Regions from separate parts of the Homo sapiens genome. Here region 1 is linked to region 2. The links come from fine-mapping of genetic effects on gene expression. A gene starts in region 2. The other region holds a variant in brackets. All regions are shown on one strand. Distances are from middle to middle. Region 1 overlaps DDX46 (DEAD-box helicase 46). Region 2 holds the start of UBE2B (ubiquitin conjugating enzyme E2 B).

What was found. PIP is the estimated chance that this variant, and not a neighbour inherited with it, causes the effect. A credible set is the group of variants that fine-mapping cannot tell apart.
Region 1: its variant is the best candidate, but not a certain one, in a credible set for the expression of UBE2B in whole blood (TOPMed, PIP 0.89).

Annotation. Positions count from the first base shown.
Region 1 is chr5:134,768,177-134,771,086 of GRCh38, forward strand. It overlaps DDX46 (DEAD-box helicase 46), which reads left to right. Exons shown (of 23, transcript NM_001300860.2): 4 at 2,727-2,823. Among named protein-coding and RNA genes, the nearest start is that of DDX46, 11 kb to the left of the region's middle. The variant C/T (reference allele first, on the strand shown) is at 1,269.
Region 2 is chr5:134,369,827-134,372,736 of GRCh38, forward strand. It overlaps UBE2B (ubiquitin conjugating enzyme E2 B), which reads left to right and starts at 1,743. Exons shown (of 6, transcript NM_003337.4): 1 at 1,743-1,813. The coding sequence starts at 1,770. It also overlaps a transcript of CDKL3 not described here. RefSeq lists enhancers at 862-1,457, 966-1,035, 1,976-2,075 and a silencer at 1,506-1,555.

The DNA of each region.
Region 1 (2,910 bases), 400 kb after region 2:
TCGGCTCACTGCAACCTTCGCCTCCCGGGTTCAAGTAATTCTCTTGCCTCAGCCTCCCGAGTAGCTGGGACTGCAGGTGTGTGCCAACATGCCCAGCTAATTTTTTGTATTTTTTAGTAGAGATGGGGTTTCACCGTGTTAGCCAGAATGGTCTCGATCTCCTGATCTCGTGATCCACCCGCCTCGGCCTCCCAAAGTGCTGGGATTAAAGGCGTGAGCCACCGTGCCTGGCCAGAAAAATTTTTAAATTGCTCTAGGGATATCTAGTATCCTTTTATGAAATAAGACTGCCTACCTTATTCTGTGTACAAAAAGCAATTCCAAGCAAAGACCAAATTAGATGGCAAAATTCTAAACCTTTTAGAAGTTTGTGCCAGAGAGTATCTTCTTCTTCACCTCTAGGTATCTTACATCAAATCTGGAAGGATTTCTAAACTACTTTAAAAAGCACCAATTATAAAGGAGAAAAAAGGTTGACTAATTTGATTACATTAAAATTAAGAAATTTTATTCATTATGAGATGCCGTAAGTTGGGGTGCGTAAACAAGTTGGGTTTATTCCAAGAATGGCAGGTTATTTTAACATTAAAAAATCATTAGAAGTCTGGGTGAAGTGGCTCACGCCTGTAATCCTAGCACTTTGGGAGGCCGAGGTGGATGGATCACGAGGTCAGGAGTTTGAGACCAGTCTGACCAACATGGTGAAACCTCGTCTTTACTAAAAGTAAAAAATTAGTCAGGTGTGGTGGCACACACCTGTGATCCCAGCTACTCGGGAGGCTGAGGCAGGAGAATCACTTGAAGCCGGGAGGTGGAGGTTGCAGTGAGCCGAGATTGCGCCACTGCACTCCAGCCTGGCCGACAGAGAGAGACTCCGTCTCAAAAAAATCCCCTAAAATCATTAGAACATTAGAACATTCGAAATGCATGTCCCTTGGGATTTTAAACGTTATTACATATATAAATTATCTTGCAGAATATTAATATATTGGTCTGTTTCTTCATTTATCACATTTTAACTATCCTACCTATAAACAAACTATATTGTTTGTATGTAGTATGTTCAGTTTTTCTTGGGTTGAATTTCCAAATATTTAGTAATGCTTCCCATTAGTGTCATGGGATTAATTTTTTTCGTTATATTTTCAAGGTTTTTTTTTTTTTTTTTTTTTTGAGGCAGAATCTTGCTCTGTCGTCAGGCTGGAATGTAGTTGTGCAATATCAGCTCATTGCAACCTCTGACTCCCTGGTTCAGGCTATTCTCCTGC[C/T]TCAGCCTCCTGAATAGCTGAGATTACAGGCACGTGCCACCATACCCAGCTGATTTTTGTATTTTTTAGTAGAGACGGGGTTTGTTTTTTTTGTTTGTTTTTTTTTTTTTTTTGAGGTGAAGTTTTGCTCTTGTCTCCCAGGCTGGTGGGCAATGGTGCAATCTCGGCTCACTGCAACCTCCGCCTCCCGAGTTCAAGTGATTCTCCTGCCTCGGCCTCCCACCCCTGAGTAGCTGGGATTACAGGCGCCTGCCACCAAGCCCGGCTAATTTTTGTACTTTTAGTAGAGACAGGGTTTCACCATGTTGGTCAGGCTGGTCTAGAACTCCTAACCTCATGTGATCCACCTGCCTCGGCCTCACAGAGTGCTGGGATTACAGGCGTGAGCCACCGCGCCCGGCCGAGTTGGGGTTTCACCATATTGGCCAGGATGGTCTCGATCTCCTGACCTCGTGATCTGCCTGCCTTGGCCTCTCAAAGTGCTGAGATTAGAGGCATGAGCCACCATGCCCAGCCTCCAGGTGTTTGTTAATGGAATATGAAAACACAGTTGACTCTTAGAAGTTTATTTCTTACCTAAATATTGGAATACAAGTCTAATAAGTGTACTTATGTATTTTTTGTTTTAATTTAATAGAGACGAGGTCTCACTGTATTATCCTGGCTGGTCTCGAACTCCTGGGCTCAAGTGATCTTCCTGCCTTGGCCTCCCAAAATACTGAGCTTACAGGCATGAGCCACTATGCCTGACCAAATTTTTTTTTTTTTTTTTTTTTTTTAAAAAGAGACAGGGTCTCACTTTGTCACCCAAGCTTGAGTGCAGTGATGGGATCATAGCTGACTGCAGCCTCGAACTACTGGGCTCAAGTGATCGTCTTGTTTCTGCCTCCTCAGTAGGTAGGACTGCAGGTGCACACCACCATACCCAGCTAATTCTTAGTATATTTTGGAAAGATTGGATCTTGTTATGTTCCCCTGGCTGATCTCTTTAACTCCTGTTTTCAATTGATCCTCCTGCCTTGGCTTCCCAAAGTGCTGGGTATATAAGTGTGAGGCACCTTACCCCACCTGTAAAAGTATTTTAAGGCCGGGCGAGGTGGCTCATGCCTATAATCCCAGCACATTGAGAGGCTGAGGTGGGCAGATCACCTGAGGTTAGAAGTTCAGGACCAGCCTGGCCAACATGGTGAAAACCTGTCTCTACTAAAAATACAAAAATTATATGAGTGTGGTGGCTGGCACCTGTAATCTCAGCTATTCGGGAGTCTGTGACAGGAGAATCGCTTGAACCCGGGAGGTGGAGGTTGCAGTGAGCTGAGATCGCACCATTTCACTCCACTCCAGTCTGGGCGACAGAGTGAGACACTGTCTCAAAAAAAAAAAAAAAAGTATTTAAAAATGAATGTTTCTAAGTACAAATGAATGACATTTCTCTTGTCTCTTTTATTTTTTTGGTAGATCTAGGTCCAAAGAGAAAACTGATGGTGGGGAAAGTTCTAAAGAGAAGAAAAAAGACAAAGATGACAAGGAGGATGAAAAAGAAAAAGATGCTGGCGTATGTTTATTAACTTAAAAATAATTTTCTTTCTTTCTTTTTGTCTTTCTTTCTTTCTTTTCTTTCTTTCCCTCTTTCTTTCTTTCT
Region 2 (2,910 bases):
GCTAATGCCCCAGCTCATGAGGGATATTTTTAAGATATAGTTTCTCTTTACCATTTTTCTCCATGTAACCCTACCTGTGTGTCTTCCTCCTTTGCTATTGGAAGGGTTAGGACTGCAATGGCAGAAAGGCAAAAAAATTAAGAATATTCAGCTTTTAACTTAAAAAACACATTGCGAATGTCTAACAGGACCTATCAAGAGTTAGGCCTGGCTAACCTGATCACCAAGGCAGTCACTGGAAGCAGAGAGGGAATTCAGGGTTTGAAGAAAGAGGTACAAGGAAAGTCAGAAAAGTTAACTCTGCTTCCATGGAATCAGGGGCAAGGCTGAGGCAATGTTAAGGTCCTCATTCCACCCTCCCTTTACCTGTTGAACTGAACAGTTCCCCAAATGGATACAAAAGTACTCAGAGTCCTTAGTATAACAAAGTCCTGAAGGTAGGAATTGGAAGCAATAGAGGGAAGGACGGTGACCACAGAAAATATTCAAGGTCTTTGGGAGGTCAACACCTCTGAACCCCCTGGTGGTGGGGGGCCCTTCTGGCCCATTTGCACCTTTCTTGCTAGTGTAGAAAACCTGAAGTTATCTCAGGCTAGATATATAACCCTCACTCATGTCTGCCGGAGCTCTCCCCCAGAATATGAATCATATTTGTAGGTTTCTTTGACAACCAACCACTCATTGATATGCTTGGAAGACTGCACCCCCACATTCCTTAAAAATACAATGGTACTCCCCCACCATAGGCAAGTCCCCGGACTCTGACACATATCTTCAATTGAAAGCAGACCCAGAAAGGAAAAACTGCATAATACACCATCCTTTAATATTTGCCCAGAATTTCCAATACTAGAAACCCCACTGCAAAGCAGAAAGACTATCTGGTAGCTTCAAGGAACCATTTCAGGAGATTGTTGTGTGGGCCTCAGTATTCAAGGCTGCCTTAGAAGATCGTGCGATCCTCTCACTCTTCTTGCCCCAAGTACCAGAGTTAATAAGCCACTGAACCAACCAGAGGGGAATTATTTTTGGTCCCGGTTTAAAGAAAACAAAACAAGCTGTTGATTCTGCCATGACCTCTTGGGTAATGTTGTCTCTATACCTGTGATAAACAGAAAACAACTAATAAAGGTTTATCCCGCCCTCACCCTCTTAAACCCGCTTCACAGACCTGGCTGAAACTCACATCCAGGCGAGGCGCTCACGTGACCCGTTCTAAACGCGTCATAGGGACACGTGGTTCTAGATACTTCTCCCCCTCCCACTCAGGGGTGGATTGTTGACAAGGCCGCGGGCAGTCACGTGATCTTACATCATCCCACCTCCTTTCCCTGAAATCTCTGGCCCGGATGCGTCCCTCTTTCTCCACCCCGCCGAGCCTAAACTAGTGACGGGGAGGGAGACGGGATAGTGTTTCTGTTTCGTGGTCTTTGAATCCACAACCTCTAGTCTGAACACAGAGAACACAAATTTGTCTATTACTTCAGGAAGCCCAGGGGGAACCGCGCCCCGCTGAAGGGCTCGGGGAAGGCGCGCTCCCGCGTCCCGCCCCCTCCTCCCCCAGCACTCACACTGTGGTAGCGGCGGAGGGCGGAGGGATCCGGAGGCGGCGGAGGGAGACGTCATTGCAGGGTTGTTTGTCAGTCTCGGCGGCGGCGGCGGCGGCGGCGGCGGCGGCGATCCACAGTGATTCGGCCGCCGCGCCGGGGGGTGGGGGGGCTGCGCGGGACTTTTTTTTTTTCAGACTGACCGCGGGGCAGCTGCGGAGCATGTCGACCCCGGCCCGGAGGAGGCTCATGCGGGATTTCAAGCGGTAAGGGCCTTCACCTTCGCCTAGATGACGGCCCCTCAAAGCTGCGGGGCTGCAGGGCGTGGATCCCAGACACCTTCCCCTTTGTGACCCTCAGAGGGCCGGCTGTGGGCCCAGCGGGACTGGCGGAAGCCGGGTCCTAGCCTCGGCCCTACTCCCATAAGCTTTGCCGCTCGTTCTGGCGCCCGAAGAAATTTTGATACTGCTTCCCCTCCCCACAAAAAGTAAAACGGTGTCGATCGACTGGTCTAGGGTTCCCTGCTGCCCATTTCGGCCAGCTGCCCGGCGTCTCGCCCAGGCGATCAGACATTATCCGCCCGCCCCTGCACCCTGCGGCGCCCCCTTCTTGTCCCCTCAAAGTGAGCTCCTGCGGGAGCTTGTTCCTCTCCGGCAGCACCAGTCAGCTTTGTTTCACGGCCCCGCCGTCTTCTCCGAGGAGCCGTGTTGGGGCGAACCCCTCTCCCGACTCCTGCCAATCCTTTCCATTTGTGCCCTGAGGGTGGGGTCCAGTGCGTGAGGCCCGGAGGTTAACCCATCCCCCGAAACCCGACTCTGTCCCCGCCCGCCTGAAAGGACCTTGGGAACTGACTTAGAGATCTGGGACCTTAGAGCTGGCCACCCCGGCTGCCAGTGCTTTCTGGAACTCAGCTCTGGCTGGTGAAGAAAGCCCCTATCTATAGCCTCCCGAGTCTGGAAAAATGCCTTCCCTTAGACTGGCGCTAATCTGATACTCCCTGGGCCTCCTTTGGTAAATAAAATAGGGTTTTGTTAGGAGGTATTGGGGTTGTGAGATAGAAAATGATTATTCCGTTGTTTACCTTTTATTGGATACTTAGAGACATAGAAAAAATAAGTGAGAAAACATCATTTTGATACTCTGCACATTTTTCTTAACATTTTTTCTGGGGACACCTGCCCTAATTGAACAAAATATCTAGCATAAAAACTTAGATTTGTCGCTCAGGAAGTCACCTCTCAGCTATTATAAAGCCTATGTGAGGCACTTGGATTTGGCCAACTTATTTAATTCATTCGTAGCTTCTCTTAGCCATTTAAAGGTAGGCGTCAAGCAGTGCAGTTCTTCTAAGGCTTCTGTTCGT